Linked DNA regions of Homo sapiens. The protein of the gene in region 3 purifies or fractionates together with the protein of the main gene of each other region. This does not show direct contact. Each region holds a gene or a part of one and is shown on either strand. Other genes may lie near its edges.

Evidence for each region.
Region 1: the proteins of GINS2 (region 3) and EIF4H fractionate together in Homo sapiens (co-fractionation; one large-scale study listed by BioGRID). This does not show direct contact.
Region 2: the proteins of GINS2 (region 3) and MCMBP purify together in Homo sapiens (co-immunoprecipitation; 2 studies listed by IntAct). This does not show direct contact.
Region 4: the proteins of GINS2 (region 3) and INPPL1 purify together in Homo sapiens (affinity purification with mass spectrometry; one large-scale study listed by BioGRID and IntAct). This does not show direct contact.

The regions. Positions count from the first base shown.
Region 1 is NC_000007.14:74,177,356-74,181,778, forward strand, and holds part of EIF4H (eukaryotic translation initiation factor 4H), read left to right. Parts: intron 1-4,423. UniProt on the Homo sapiens protein: Stimulates the RNA helicase activity of EIF4A in the translation initiation complex. Binds weakly mRNA.
Region 2 is NC_000010.11:119,833,921-119,838,343, forward strand, and holds part of MCMBP (mini-chromosome maintenance complex-binding protein), read right to left. Parts: intron 3,110-4,423; coding exon 2,976-3,109; intron 1,785-2,975; coding exon 1,620-1,784; intron 1-1,619. UniProt on the Homo sapiens protein: Associated component of the MCM complex that acts as a regulator of DNA replication.
Region 3 is NC_000016.10:85,686,155-85,690,389, forward strand, and holds the start of GINS2 (DNA replication complex GINS protein PSF2), read right to left. Parts: upstream 2,801-4,235; 5' UTR 2,745-2,800; coding exon 2,655-2,744; intron 1,421-2,654; coding exon 1,306-1,420; intron 1-1,305. UniProt on the Homo sapiens protein: Required for correct functioning of the GINS complex, a complex that plays an essential role in the initiation of DNA replication, and progression of DNA replication forks.
Region 4 is NC_000011.10:72,234,767-72,238,129, forward strand, and holds part of INPPL1 (phosphatidylinositol 3,4,5-trisphosphate 5-phosphatase 2), read left to right. Parts: intron 1-349; coding exon 350-437; intron 438-529; coding exon 530-685; intron 686-908; coding exon 909-987; intron 988-1,079; coding exon 1,080-1,220; intron 1,221-2,357; coding exon 2,358-3,030; intron 3,031-3,275; coding exon 3,276-3,363. UniProt on the Homo sapiens protein: Phosphatidylinositol (PtdIns) phosphatase that specifically hydrolyzes the 5-phosphate of phosphatidylinositol-3,4,5-trisphosphate (PtdIns(3,4,5)P3) to produce PtdIns(3,4)P2, thereby negatively regulating the PI3K (phosphoinositide 3-kinase) pathways.

The sequences.
Region 1 (4,423 bases), on a different chromosome or scaffold from region 3:
TAAAATGTGCCACTTTACCCATTTTTCAGTATACATTTCAGGGATATTGAGTGTATTCGTAATGTATAACCATCACCACTATCCAGCTCCTTAACTCTTACAGCTTGTAAAACTAAAACCCTGTCCCCTTTGAATAGTAATTCCCTATTGCCCTCCTTCCCCCAGGTCCCTGGCAACCACCATTCTACTTCCTGTCTCTGAGCATATTTTAAGATTTGTATGTAATAGGAAGGAAAGCAGTGTATAAAAACTACAGCTAGTTTTCACTGATGCTAGGGCCTGTAAAGCTATTGAAAAGCTTATTTTAAAATGCTGTTTACATGTCAAATGTCAAGTCGTTTAGGTTTGTTATCCTTCTTCACTCCAAGTGTTCCATTGCTTAGTTCCAAACCATTATCCTCTATGAAAAGTGTTACCAGAAATATTTGGATTTGCTAAGAGGTCTCTGCATGACGGTTCATGTAAAAGCCCTGGCTTTGGAATAAGGCAGACCAGAGTTTCATCAGTTCAGCCATGTGTTAGTTGTGTGATCTGAAGTAAGTTTCTTCACCTCTCTGAGCCTCGTTTTCCCCACATATGAGTTAGAAACATGTATTTATTTATGAAATAGGCTCTCCTTCTGTCACCCAGGCTGGAGTGCAGTGGCAGGATCATAGCTCAGTGCAGCCTCGACTTCCCAGGCTCAAGCCATCCTCCCACCTCAGCCTCCCAAGTAGCTGGGATTACAGGGTGCGCCACCATGCCCAGCTAATTTTTGTATTTTTTTGTAGAGACAGAGTGTCTCTATGTTGCCCAGGCTAGTCTCAAACCCCTGGGCTCAAGGGATCTTCCTGCCTCAGCCTCCCAAGGCTCATTGTGTGAGCCACAGTACCCAGCCTTCAATTTATGTTTCTATTAGAAATTAAGCTTTGTGGCTGGGTGCAGTGGTTCATGCCTGTTATCCCAGCACTTTGGAAGGCCGAAGCAGGCGGATCACTTGTGGCCAGAAGTTTGAGACCACCCTGACCAACGTGGCAAAACCCCATGTCTACTAAAAATACAAAACGGGTGTGGCGGCACATACCTGTAATCCTAGCTACTTGGGAGGCTGAGGCAGGAGAATTGCTTGAACCAGGGAGGCGGAGGTTGCATTGAGCTGAGATCATGCCACTGCACTCCTCCAGCCTGGGCGACAGAGAGAGACTGTCTCCAAAAAAAAAAAAAGAAAAATTAAGCTTAGTGTTCTGGAAAGACTTCACAATTTTAAGGAGTCTCCCTGGAAGCTTAGAACGTACAAAGCAGACTCTGAATGTCTTTCCAGGATCACACTCTGGCTTCCAGCTTCCCCTGGAAGGTTCAGGAGAGTATTTGTCGCCTGGTTGCTTTTACATCATGCTGATTAGACCTGCACACCCGGGCATGAAATGAGTGTGATTGCATCATTTTCATAGAACCTAATGGCAGCTGTATGTACGTCTAAGACTTCTTTTGTGTAAGTCGAATGTTCTTCGAAGTTTCCCCACGTCATGATTTATGTGATTTTCCGTCTTGATCAGGACCTTCTGAAGGAGCTCAAGTATGTGGCTGCTCCACGGTTGATGAGTCTCTGGTTAAGCATGGCCTTCCAGTTCAGGGCTAGGGGGGCCGTCACCTCCCTTTGTTCTGCACATTCTTCTCCTGTCTTTCATGTATACTCACATTTTTGGAGCCTTCTGTGTACTCACATTTTTGGAGCCTTCTAAATGTCTGGCTTAATAGAACACAGCTGGATTCTCATACCTGCATCTGTCTCCACTCTTGGAATGTGTTGCTTTGGTTGACTTTTATGGAGCAGCTCAATCCTTGCACAGATAAATAGTTGGAAATGGGAGGAGTAATCAAATAATTCTGGATATTCATATTTGATTCTATACCAAAACTCAATAAGCAGTAGTTTCTATGAAGGTTAGTTGCAATGTGAAACCTAAAACCTTATCAATAAACTCTTCATACTTTTACATTAGAGTTCATCATTTGGCTGGGCGCGGTGGCTCACTCCTGTAACCCCAGGACTTTGGGAGGCCAAGGCGGGCGGATTACCTGAGGTCAGTAGTCTGAGACCAGCCTGGCTAACATGGCAAAGCCCCATCTCTACTAAAAACACAAAAACTAGCTGGGCATGGTGGTGGGCCCCTGTAGTCCCAGCTACTTGGGAGGCTGAAGCCATAGAATCACTTGAACCTGGGAGGTGGAGTTTGCAGTGAGCCCAGATTGCGCCACTGCACTCCCGCCTGGGCGACAGGGTGAGACTCTGTATCAAAAAAAAAAAAAAAAAGTCACTTTATCTTGTACTCCGACTGGATCCTTTACCAGTGCATACATTTGTAAGGTGTTGGTGATTTGGAAAGGACCTGTTCACTGAGCCAGGCAGAGCCATGCAGATGTTCCAGATGTTGGTACATTTTGTTATACAGTATCAAAGTCACATTCACCATAGCTGTTAGAAAAGTCTCTGAGTATTGAAAGACTGTCAGGCTTATGTTGATGGATACAGGTTTTCCGAAACTCTTTTTTGCTTGAAAGCTTAAATTTTACCATTGGCAACAAATACTGTTATTTTGGCCAGGTGCTGTGGCTCATGTCTGTAATCCCAACACTTTGGGAGGCCATGGCAGGAGGATCACTCTAGCCCAGTCTGGACAATATGTCCAGACCTGGTCTTTTCAAAAATAAAATTAGCTGGTGTGGTGGTATATGCCTATAGTCCCACCTACTTGGGAGGCTGAGGCTAGAGGATCACTTGAGTCCTGGAGATTGAGGCTGCAGTGAGCAGTGATTGCACCACAGCACTCAAATCTGGGCAACAGAGCAAGACCCTGTCTCAAAACAAAAAACCCAAATACTGTTCTTTTACTTCAAGGAACAGACTTAACTTCATTTTTAAAAAACTTAGTACCCATGTCTGAATTAACCATAGTTTGTTCTATAGAAAGAACAGCTAGTTCAGCTTGTAGCTCAAGTGCTTTTCCTGCAGCAGCCATCATGCTTGTGTATGCAGCAGAAGTGCTTTGCGTGTTTCATAACATAGGGTACTAAAAAGTGGGTCACGATTCATTTTTACTGCTTTACCAAGGATATTCCTAATTGAAGCTGTGATTTTTCTTCCTATTTTAAATACTTCAAGTGCATGGTGGGAAAGCATGAGTAATGTAGTTTGATGCCCCTGCCTTCGTTTGTATTAACACAAAGACCTGTTGTGAGATCAGTATAGGTCTTTGCTTTATAAATGTGGAATATTGTGAACCATTCTGGGAACCATATTTTAAGGCATCAGCACACTGGAGCCTATGAAGAAGAAGGTGATAGTGGGGATGGCCAGGCTCTGAAACTTCATCTTAGGAGGAAGGGCTGAGCAGCTTCAGTGAGGACCTTCGAAAGAAGCCTCAGCAGCAGTGATACAGCAGCTCTTAAGTCTCTGGGACTGCTGAGTGGAAGAAAGGTGTGGCCCTCCAGGCCAGAATAGGACCAAAGGATTACATCTTGGCCTTCTTCAGAGACTGCACAAATGTAAAGAACTGCTGCTTGAGCTAAATAATTGTTTTTTTAATAGAGACAGGGTCTCCCTTTGTTGCCTAAGCTGGTCTTGAACTAGCCTCAAGGGATACTCCTGCCTTGACCTCCTAAAGTGCTGGGATTGCAAGCATGAGCCACCACGCCCAGCCTCAACCATTTTTAAGTGTACAATTTAGTGGCATGGAGTACCTTCATAGTGTTGTGTAACCATTGCCACTATCTAGTTCCAGAACCTTTTCATAATCCAAACAGAAACTCTATACCCACTAAACAACTCCATTCCTTTCCCAGTTTTAACCTCATAAACATTTTGGCTATTTCTGTTACATCTATCTTCCCTACTTTTGGGTGGAGGTGTGGGCTAGGATAATTTAAGGCTAATCCTAGTCACCTATCCTTCTAAAATAGTTCTTATTTTTTTAAATTTTAATCCTCATCTTTGTGTTGGTAAATATTACATACTTTAGAGCAATTTTTGTTTCAATTTTTATGGCTACCGTAGTAGATGTATCTTATATATTCTTTCTTTGTTTTTTTTGTTTTTTGTTTTGTTTTGTTTTCTGAGGCAGAGTTTTACTCTTGTTGCCCAGGCTGGAATGCAGTGGCACTATCTCGGCTCACCACAACCTCCGCCTCCTGGGTTCAAGCGATTCTCCTGCCTCAGCCTCCCGAGTAGCTGGGATTACAGGCATGTGCCACCACACCTGGCAAATTTTGTATTTTTAGCAGAGATAGAGCAGAAACAGAGGGTTTCTACATGTTGGTCAGGCTGGTCTCGAACTCCCGACCTCAGGTAATCTGCCTGCCTCGGCCTCCCAAAGTGCTGGGATTACAGGTGTGAGCCACCGAGCCCGGCCTTTTTTTTTGAGATGGAGTCTCACTCTGCCTCCCA
Region 2 (4,423 bases), on a different chromosome or scaffold from region 3:
AGGAAATAAAAATTCTGGAGTTGAAAAATATAGTAAAAATTCTCTAGAGGTGCTCAGATTTGATCAGGCAGAAGAAAATCACTAAATTTGAAGATAAGTTCACTGAGATTAGTCTAAGAAACAGAACAAAAAAAGAAGAATGAGGGAAAATGAACAGAGCCTTGAAGACCTGTGGGATACCATTAAATGCAACATCAGATACACAGTGGTAGTGTCAGAAGGAGAGCAGAGAGAAATGAGGCAGAAAGAAACATGGCCAAAACCTTCCCAAACTTGTTGAAAACTTCCCCAAAATATGAATTATTCTGCACCTCCAAGAAGCTCAACAAACTCCATGTAGGATAAACTCAGAGATCCACACATAGACACATCATAATCGAAACTGTCAAAAGCCACAAAATCTTGAAAGCAGTGACAGAAAAATGACTCAGTGTGTACAAAGGATCCTTATCAGAAACTAGTTGGCTTCTCAGTAGAAACCAGAGGCCAGAAAGTGGTGGGAGGACATATTCGAAATGATGAGACAAAGACTATAAACCAAGAATTCTACATCCAGCAAAACTAGCCTTAAGGAGAAATTAAGACATTCCCAGATAAACAAAAACTTAAAAGAGGGCTGGGCGAGGTAGCTCACACCTCTAATTCCAGAATTTCGGGAGGCTAAGGAGAGAGGATCACTTGAACCCAGGAGTTCGAGACTAGCCTGGGCAACATAAAGAGATCCCCTATCTGCACACACACAAACACACACACACACCCAAACAAAACAAAAAAACCCAAAAAACAAAGAATTAGCTGGGCACAGTGGCACATGCCTGTGGTCCCAACTACTCAGGAGGCTGAAGTGGGAGGATCGCTTGAACCTGGGGGGGTTGAGGCTGCAGTGAGCCATGATCACAACACTGCACTCTAGCCTGGATGACACAGCGAGACCCTGTCTCAAAAAAAAAAAAAAAAAAAAAAAAGAATTTGCACAAGTAGACCTGCCATGCAAGAAACACTAAAGACAGTTCTTCAGGCTGAAATGAAAAGATACTAGACAGTAACATGAACCCACATGAGGAAATAAAGGGTGCTGGTAAAAGTGATTGCATAGGCAAATAGAAAAAATAGTACAGAAGTCTTTTCCATTTCTAACTTTTTTCTCTAAAAGACAACTGCAAAAGCAGTAATTCTAAATGTGTTGATGGACATACAATGTACTGAGAGGTAATTGTATGACAGGAGCACAAGGGAGAGGAGAAGGAACGGAATTATAAAGGGGCAAAGTCTTTGTATAATATAATTAAAATGGCATTAGCCACACAAATTTTTTTTAAATTAAAAATAACTAAACAAACTGGCATTAATCCCTAATAGATGATTATACTAACATGTTAAGTTTATCCCCCAAAGACAACTACTAAGAAAATAACTTTAAGAAACTTCAAGGGATTAAAATGGGACACTGGAAAATACCTATTTCAAACAAAAAGACAATAATGGAGTAACAGAGGAATAAAAAAAGACATGACAGAAAACAAATAACAAAATTACCTTATCAGTAATTATGGTAAATGTAAATTGGTTGCATACTGCAATTCAACACAGGGAAATCCTTTATTTTAACCTAGACATACCTTGGTTATTTCATCAGATATGCTATATTCCAAGAATCTCAAAAGAGTTAGATAAATGCGGAATTTGTTCAGCACGGAAGGCAGCACCGCTGAGAGAAGGCTGTTCATGTACTCCTCCATGTTTGGTGGAATTAGCTGGGGCTGTAAGTGAATCTGGCAGTCTGCCTGAAAAGAGAAGGAGTACACTGTATTTTCTGAGTTCCTAAATTAATCTACATTTTTAAAGAAAGATGCATCATCTCTGTCAGCCCCTATGGGAATTAGAAAATACCACTTATTATTTAGGGGGAGGGAATAATGTTTTTTTTTCTGTGTGTGAGACAGGGTTTTGTCCTGTCACCCAGGCTGGAGTGCAGTGGTGTGATTGCAGCTCACTGCAACCTGCTTCCCAGGCTCAAGTGATCCTCCCACCTCAGCCTCCTCAGTAGTGGGACCACAGGTGCACGCCACCATGCCTGACTAATTTTGGATTTTTTGTAGAGACAAGTTTCGTCATGTTGTCCAGGCTGGCCTCAAAGTTCTGGGCTCACGCAATCCACCTGCCTTGGCCTCCCAAAGTGCTAGGATTACAGGCGTGAGCCACCGCAGCCAGTGAGCATCTATTTTTAATATTAATTTACATGCTTTATAACTACCTCAGAAATAATTATGAAAGCTTTTTCTTGGTTACTTATGTTTCCTCAATGGTATCAGTAAGCACACAAAAATGTAGCCAACCTCTAAAAAGCAGCTAATTAAAAAGGTCTATCAATACTTGCACACAGAAAACATATCCTTGAGCCATTTCATTCTTAGTCAAAGGCGGTTTCTCATCAATCGCAGGTGAATACTATTATTCAGAGACTACACACCATTTGACAACTGGGAGCATTTCCCATCATCCACAGAATTAAAAGCTCTCTTTACCAGCCACTCTGAAGACATACCAGAGCATTTCACCACAAAGCATGAAAATAACTACCAAGTGACCAAGGACATTTTAAAAGAACTCTGAAATATTTTTCACATAAGATTAGCAGAAAACAATGGGTCAAAGGTAGCAAGAACAGAAGTCTGGATGTTAAAATCAGGCAATCTCGCTATGCTCAGATGTGGGTGTTTCTGCTGCCAACAGCCTTGCTGGTCTCATGACTTGCTGATACCTGAGCTTGGTAGATGTAAGGTTTTCATCCATGGCAGTGCAAAATACTCAATTCCCTTAATGATCAGCAGTCACAGTTTTTTTTTTTTTTTTTTTTTTTTTTTTTTTTTTTTTACAACAAATGTAACTTATTAATAAGCGGTACCAAGAAACAGCAAAAATGTAGGTATTTTTCCAATGTCAACCTCCCTCCATTTAAAAATGACTCATCATACCGGGAGGAGTGACCTCCCCTCCGAAGTAATGAAAACGTTAATATTGCAGGGGAATTCCATCTGATGGTAGCTGAAGTCATAATCCACCTTCTGCCACGTTATGAGGTTGCTCAGGGCTGTCACATTATGAACACCTACAAAGGCAGGAAAACACTTTCAGTCATTTGACTTTAATCATCTAAACACATCAGTTTTGCTGACACCGATGATGAGCCATGAAGTTTCTACCACTTTTAATAAAGGGTATGAGGCGCTGTCCAGTTTACTAAGCTAAACGTCACTAAGTGTGTAGGCTTACAACAGTCTTGGTCAAGGTAGAACTTTCTGGGGGCAGGCGATACCCCCGCAAATCTAATACCTAGCATCTGGTATGCACCTAGACATAAAATAGTTCCCAAGTATGATTATTTCTAAGTGGTGTATTTACAGGGCTAAACCAAGGAAACACTAAAACTACCGTCATACATAGATCAGCCTAGTGAATTTTACAGATTTTATATTCCCCTTTGCCTTAAACATGCCCAGTCTACCTCATTTTTTCTTCTACCTTTACCTCTTGAGCTGATCGCCAGCAGTGTATTCTTAATTGTCTTCATTTGAGCACTGGTAAACAATCTGCTTTCTTGTGATTTTATAATATATTCCGCAACTGAGGTTAGTGCAAACCATTTGATCTATTATTTCTCAGACATTCTCTGAAAACCATTTACAAACTTTACAACGGGAGGTTAAAACATAATTAGCCAGGCGTGATGGCGGGTGCCTGTAGTCCCAGCTACTCGGGAGGCTGAGGCAGGAGAATGGTGTGAACCCGGGAGTTGGAGGTTGCAGTGAGCCAAGATTGGCCACTGCACTCCAGCCTGGGCGACAGAGCAAGACTCCGTCTCAAAACAAAAAAAAAATTATATTAGATCTTTTCTACACTTCCCTTTTGAGGTATTAGATGACTAAAGGCAAAGCTTCCTCCCATTTCAGCTTTTTAAAAAGCTATTTGGGGCAGGTGCAGTGGCTCACACCTGTAATCCCAGCACTGTGGGAGGCCAAGGCAGGAGGATCACTTGAGCCCAGGAATTCAAGATCAGCTGGGCAACATAGCGAGACCCTGTCTCTACCATTCCTTACACTCACTGAAAAAAAAATTTTAGGTTATATACAACTACGCAAAAGAACCCAACACTGTAGGCCCATAAAGACTGCTCCAACCATTCGCTGACACAATAAAACTTTTCACCAAAGAACCCTTACGACCCTCAACATCTAATACTACCCTTTATATTACTGCTCCATTATACTAATACTACCCTTTATATTATTGCTCCATTATATAATATATAAAATATATAATATATGATATATATTAAATGAGACATTATATATTATATATGATATATATTATATAAGATATATTATATAAGATATATATCTGTTCCATTGTACTACTTTCAGAA
Region 3 (4,235 bases):
TCAGCCATTTAAAGTATACAAGTTTTGAGGTGGGTGGATCACGAGGTCAGGAGATTGAGACCAACCTGGCTAACACGGTGAAACCCAGTCTCTACTAAAAATACAAAAACAAAATTAGCCGAGCGTGGTAGCGGGCGCCTGTAGTCCCAGCTACTTGGGAGGCTGACGCGGGAGAATGGTGTGAACCCAGGAGGTGGAGCTTGCAGTGAGCCGAGATCGCACCACTGCACTCCAGCCTGGGCGACAGAGCGAGACTCTGTCTCAAAAAAAAAAAAAAAGTATACAAGTTTTAGTAGCACTTGTGGGCTATTAAAAACAAAGTGTACAAGTCAATGGTGTTTAGTATATTCAGACTTGGGCAACCATTACCTCCATCAATCCCAATTTTCATCATGCCAAAAAGAAACTCCACAATCCCTCCATCACCCAAAGCAAGACCCCCATACTTAAGCAACTACTAATCTACATTGTCTCTATTGATTTGCCTATTCTAGACAGTTGATAGAAATGGAATGATACAGTGTGCGGCCTTTTGTGCCTGGTTTCTTTCATTCAGCAAGATCTTTAAGATGTTTCAGGTTCATCCACGCAGTAGCATGTATCAGAATTCCATTCCTTTTTATAGCTGAATAATATTCAACCTTATTGTGATATATTATTTTCATGCATTCTCTATAACTGCTTCTCAACATGCTAATCTATACTTATTTTTAAAATTTTAAAACAAATGCTTATTTAAGGTCATATATTTATTTTAAAGCAAATTGAAATATCTTACATTAAAATATAGGCTGGGCACAGTGGCTCACGCCTATAATCCCAGCAGATCTGCCAAGGTGGCCAGATCGCTTGACCCCAGGAGTTTGAGACCAGCCTGGGCAGCATGGCAAGACCCCATCTCTACAAAAACGCAAAAATTTGCAGGGTGTGGTGGCGCACGCCAGTGGTCCCAGCTACTTGGGAGGCTGAGGCAGGAGGATCACTTGAACCCAGGAGGTGAAGGCTGCATTGAGCCGAGATTGCACCACTGCTCTCCAGCCTGGGTGATGGAGTCAGACCCGTCTCAAAAAACAAACTACAACTTTCACACACACCAAAACCTAACATGACATTACTAACAGTGGTTAGCAGACTCTGCTGAGAGGTGAATCTGGAAGTATTCCTTTCAGCTGATCAGTAGATAACGGAACAGAGGGAGCACGGACCTAGTCAGGAAGGAGGCCCCATGCCTCCACCCCGTGGGAGAGGGCGTCACCCCAAGCCCAGCCCCACCCACGCATCAACCAGTCTCCACCACATCCTTACCTACATCCATCCACTCTGGAGGGAGCAGGCGACATTTCTGTCTTTGTTTCAGGTTAATCGCCAGCCACAGGGGCACTTCCACGGGTAAACCAGGGTTAAAAGGCCCCAGGTCCCCCTGCCAAAAGTAAAACAATTCCCCGTAAGATTGAAAAAGAACAAAAAAAGCATTACTGTGCGTTACTGCTATCAAATAAGAGGCAAGGCATTGCAGAGGCTGAAGTCCAAATGCAAATAATAAAAACCCAACTGTTACCAGACTCAGAACAAAGCGCCTCCTGAGCGGCTCCGAGACACCTGCGAGCGTGGGGCTCAGTCCTTCTGGCCTTTCCGCGGACAGGATGCAAGTCTCCCCTGAGTGGGTGGGGGGCGCTCCCTCTCCCGCCTGCACCCTCCAACTCCGGAACAGGTTTCACACACCCAATGTTGGGGTCCTGGGGTGCGGGGAGGTGGGTCTGGGCAGGTACAGAGCCTGCCCTCCTTCTCCAGGACTCCCAGCGCCGAGGCGCCTCCCTCATACTGAAAACGCAAAGCCGGGCGGGCGCGGGGGCTCACAATCCAGCTACTCGGGAGGCTGAGGCAGGAGAATCACCTGAACCCGGGAGGCGGAGGCCGCAGTGAGCCGAGATCGCGCCACTGCATTCCCGCCCGGGCGATAGAGCGAAACTCCATCTCAAAGATAAAGACAAAAACAAACAGAGGCAAAGCCGACTTTTGCCCATAATCCCAGCCCTTTGGGAGGCCGACGTGGGAGGATCGCCTGGGGAGCCCAGGAGTTCGAGGCCAGCCGCATCTCTACCAAATAAATAAGCCGGGCGCAGTGGCTCCCGCCTGTCATCCCAGCACTTTGGGAGGCCGAGGCGAGTGGCTCATGAGGTCAGGAGTTCGAGACCAGCCTGGCCAACACGGTGAAACCACATCTCTACCAAAAATACAAAAATGCGCCGGGCGTGGTGGCGGGCACCTGTAACAGCAGCTACTCAGGAGGCTGAGGCAGGAGAATCGCTTGAACCCGGGAGGCGGAGGCTGCAGTGAGCCGAGACGGCACCACTGCACTCCAGCCTGGGCGACAGAGTGACACTCCACCTCAAAAACCAAAAAACAAACCAAAAAAGCCCCCAAACAGATCAAAAAAACCCTGTAAACCCGGGCGTTCGGGGCACTGGCAAAGAGCGCAGTCTCGCTTTCCTCATCCGAGAAGCGGGAACGGCGGTGAGCGAGTCAAGCGCCGAGTGGTGGCCTCCGCAGATGCGGGAGCAGGGCGAGCCCGCGACCCCGGGGCTGAAGGCCACGCGGGAGCCCCGGACGCGCCCAGCCCGGCCTCCCCTCCCCACGGCGGGCCCAGGCCTCACCCCGATGAGGTAGATCTTGTCCAGACTGAAGTTGGGGATAATGGTAACCAGCTCCTTCTCGGCGAGGAATTCGACCTCGGCAGCGTCCATGGCGGCGCGAGCTGCAGGCCAGAGCCTCACGGTCTCCTCGGGCCCCTCAGCGTCCCGGAGGAGACGCCGCGGCCGCCGTTTTCCCGCCACGGCGAGAGCCCGCCCCGGCCGGAAGACGGCCTGCGCCAGCCTATAGGAAGGCGGTAGACAGCCTATAGGCGCTGTCTGCGGGCGGGGGGGCGGAGACCGCGCTCGCGAAGAGCCCGCGGATTGGCAAGGCCGAGGGAGGCTGCGCGCCGGCCCCGCCCCGGCCCGCGGACAGGCCCCGCCCCCACCCCGGCCCCGCCCCGCCCGTGGGCGTGCACCTGGCGCTGTCAGGATCTCCTGCCGCGGGCGCCAGCTTTGGTGTCCCTTCACCTGTCCCCGGCGCCCGCCGCAAACGGCCCTAATCAAGAGCCGGGGGTGGGGTTCCGGGCCGCTTCTACGCCGGCGTTCCGCATGGGGCCAAGAGTAAACGCATTTATTTTATTTTAATTTTTAAACAACTTTTCGTGGATTTGGGATCTTGCTGTGTTGCTCAGGCTGGTCTTGAACTTCCGGTCTCCAGCGATCCTCCCATCTCGACTTCCCAAAGTGCTGGGATTACAGGTGGGAGCCATCGTGCCAGGCCAAGAGTACAAGCATTTATTGGCCCAAACTCAGCACCGGGCCCGGGACTAGGCATCACCCGGGCTGACAGATAGAGGGATGAGGGAAGACCTTGTTTCCATTAATTTCACAATCTTCTGCCCTCTCTGCACACATTGTTTAAAACAGCTGTAAAAATGCAGATTCCTCCATCCCACCCCACAGCTTCCAATTCGGACACTTCAGAGCAGGAGCTCAGAATTTGCACTTCGGCAGGAGCCCCACATGAGACAGGAGCGGCAGGTTTGCACCACCTGAGCAAATACTCACCTGCTCGCTGGACCGGCTGCCCCTGTACAGTGGGCGCAGGTGAAGCCAGAGCGGTGGCTGGAGCTCACCTGTGTCAGAATCCCCTAGCGGGTGCCCATTGTCTGTGTGCACGCTCCTGGGAGTTGGGATTCCGGAGTCGTGGAAAGGACAGAAAGCTGAATTTCATCCAGGGCCAGGTGATTTTGATGGGGTGGTCATGGCCGGAAAAGCTTCCTGGGGGTGAAGCGCTATTCTAGGACTGCAGTCGAATTTGAAACCTTGATAATTAGGCCCGCGAGAAAAATCACAGGAGACATGAGGATTCCAGGGTTTGGAATTCCAGCAGAAAGCACCCCCTGCCCCCGCCCCAGCTAACCGGATGCTCTCCTCTCCAACCTCCCTGAAGCCCCATAGAGGGTCACTGGGAAGGTGAAAAAAAGCCGTAAAGCTCACAGGCCTGCTCACAAAGCTGTGTCTGTTGTGTATCTGCCTTAGAAGTTGTTATTTACAGATCTGGAGTTTTCGCTGAGTTACTTTCATGTGTGAAGACACATACTCTTGGCCAGGCACGCCTGTAATCCCAGCACTTTGGGAGGCCGAGGCAGAAGGATCACT
Region 4 (3,363 bases), on a different chromosome or scaffold from region 3:
GGGCATGGGCATGAGTGAGGATAAAGGCGTTTGCTTTATTTTGGGAGTGTGGAACCTTGTTGCAGTTTGTTCATTCATTCAGGAGATGCTTCTTGAGCTTTTGCTAGATGTCAGGTCCTGTGTTAGCTATTGAGAAAATTAATTAGTTACAGTGATGCTAGGTGCTGTAAAAGGCCTGTATAGGGCTGTGTCTTCTGCATTAAGGATTTGGCTCTTCTCTGAAGAGTTGAGTGTGAGTGAGCACAGATGACCTGAGGGTGGGGATTGAGTGGTGTCAGGGGGCAGCGCGTAGGAGGGGCAGGAGGAAGTGGCGGGGCTTTGTTCCTCACTGGGCCTCCCTGCTTCCCAGCTCAAACCAATTCTGGCTGATATCGAGTACCTGCAGGACCAGCACCTCCTGCTCACAGTCAAGTCCATGGATGGCTATGAATCCTATGGTGAGGGGTGAGGGGTGCTGAGGGGAACAGGAAGCCAGACAGGGCCCTAGATTAGCTTGGTAATTTGCTGGTTTGTCCCATCTGCTCCTCAGGGGAGTGTGTGGTTGCACTCAAATCCATGATCGGCAGCACGGCCCAACAGTTCCTGACCTTCCTATCCCACCGTGGCGAGGAGACAGGCAATATCAGAGGCTCCATGAAGGTGCGGGTGCCCACGGAGCGCCTGGGCACCCGTGAGCGGCTCTACGGTGGGGACTCCACTGGGACATGAGATAGGGTGGTGTGAACAGATCAAGGAGGGCAGGGTGCGGGGGGCATGTTGGAATCTCTGGGATACCTGGAGGTTCTGCAGCCACAGCTGGGAATAGTCCTGCCCCAAGGCATAGCTGGGAAAGGGCTGGCAGGCCCACTGGGTGTCTGTGGGATCCAGGAGCCCAGGTCTCCTCTGAGTCTCCCTTCCTGCCCCCTCAGAGTGGATCAGCATTGATAAGGATGAGGCAGGAGCAAAGAGCAAAGCCCCCTCTGTGTCCCGAGGGAGCCAGGAGCCCAGGTGAGCTAGGGCTGTGTTGAATGTCATATGAAAGGGTACCTGGGGGCATCTGGTCAACCCCACTTCATCTCTCTCCTGTGCATCCCTGGCAGGTCAGGGAGCCGCAAGCCAGCCTTCACAGAGGCCTCCTGCCCGCTCTCCAGGTTATTTGAAGAACCAGAGAAACCGCCACCAACGGGGAGGCCCCCAGCCCCACCCCGAGCAGCTCCCCGGGAGGAGCCCTTGACCCCCAGGTGAGAGGAGGAACCTGTCACCGCCCCCCCTTCCCCCACCCACCTCTATCCATCACTATCCCCTGCAGGGTCTCAGGGTTGGCCTGGAGATCATCAGCTGCTTAGGTGCCCTGCCACTCTGTGGTTGGAGCTGCCATGGCCTTATGCCTGTGGCCAGCCAGGCCACCCTTAGCTGTGGCTCTGAGTCAAAGGGAGCAGTCAGCCTTTCCTCTCAATTCTGCCTTTAAAAATGGAATGCGAAATTGTTTCTAAGACAGCTCCCTCCATGTAAACAGACCTAGCTTGAGCCTTCTATTTGGAGGAGGCACATGGCTCGGCCTGGGATTTCCCAGGGTACCTTCTTTGGAACTCTGTCCTGCAAGAGGCCCCAGTTGAAATGGGTTTGTGGTCAAATGAGTTTGGGAAATGCTTTTTCTAGATTCTTTTCTTAGACATTCCCAGTGCATGTTAGTATTAGCAAAAGCTCTGAGCATGTGGACAGGAAGGAAACCTCTTTTCAGCTCTGTTTAATATAGTTTCCCAAACTTAATGGGCCAGGAAACTTATTTTCCATGTAGTAACTATTAACGTTCTGGGGAATTAGTGCTCTGTGTCACACTTTGGGAAAGTGAGGCTTGCTTTCTAATTATATCCGATTGTTGCTTAAACTTACATAAACTCCTAGGTACAGTTTGGTGCTTTTTCACTCATCTTCAGCTGTTGTCAGTCACCCCGGTTTTATCCCTAGGCTTGAATAAGACCCACCTGAATCTCTGAGAAAGATTCTGCAGCGGATTGACTGTGGGTGCCTCAAGAGGCTTTCCAAACCTGGCCTCTCATTGGAGGCTTCTTGCCCTGTCTTCTGGCACCTCTATTCTGACCCATTTAGCTTGGGTTTCACAGCTACAGATAAAGTCATGAAAGATCTAAGTATCTTAGCAAGTGAGGCAAGGGATTGTAGGGTTATCCATTCAAAGGGTTATCCTCCCTCTGACCTTTAGAGATGAAGAAACTAAGGGCAGGTGATGTGCTCAAGGTCATGAGAAAGTCTAGGACCAGGGGACTTTCTGACTCCCGTCTAGTTCTCCTTCCACTGCTTCCACTGCCTTAGACCTGGGTTCCTGGATCCTGGCTTAGTCGTTCTGCTTCCACACCCAGGTTGAAGCCAGAGGGAGCTCCTGAACCAGAAGGGGTGGCGGCCCCCCCACCCAAGAACAGCTTCAATAACCCTGCCTACTACGTCCTTGAAGGGGTCCCGCACCAGCTGCTGCCCCCGGAGCCACCCTCGCCTGCCAGGGCCCCTGTCCCATCTGCCACCAAGAACAAAGTGGCCATTACAGTGCCTGCTCCACAGCTTGGGCACCACCGGCACCCTCGTGTGGGAGAGGGGAGTTCTTCAGATGAGGAGTCTGGAGGCACACTGCCCCCTCCAGACTTTCCACCTCCACCACTGCCGGACTCAGCCATCTTCCTGCCCCCCAGCCTGGATCCTTTACCAGGGCCAGTGGTCCGGGGCCGTGGTGGGGCTGAGGCCCGTGGCCCACCACCTCCCAAGGCCCATCCAAGGCCTCCACTGCCCCCAGGCCCCTCACCAGCCAGCACTTTCCTGGGGGAAGTGGCCAGTGGGGATGACCGGTCCTGCTCGGTGCTGCAGATGGCCAAGACGCTGAGCGAGGTGGACTATGCCCCTGCTGGGCCTGCACGCTCAGCGCTCCTCCCAGGCCCCCTGGAGCTGCAGCCCCCCCGGGGACTGCCCTCGGACTATGGCCGGCCCCTCAGCTTCCCTCCACCCCGCATCCGGGAGAGCATCCAGGAAGACCTGGCAGAGGAGGTGTGTGGAGCAGGGTGGCTGTCTGTGTGTGCCTGAGTGTGCTTGCCCACAGACTGGTACCCTTTCACTCCACCATTCAGCACTCATGGTGTCCCTGCTACCCTGAACTGATCACTGGGAAGTTGGGAGACACATGTATCAGCCCAGCCCTTCCCTTCCTTTTCCCCAGAGCATGCAGCAGAATGTGACTGCAGGTGTTTCTATGGGGGGCACTCAGCTCCCCCTGACATGCCCTGTTTCCTTAGGCTCCGTGCCTGCAGGGCGGGCGGGCCAGCGGGCTGGGCGAGGCAGGCATGAGTGCCTGGCTGCGGGCCATCGGCTTGGAGCGCTATG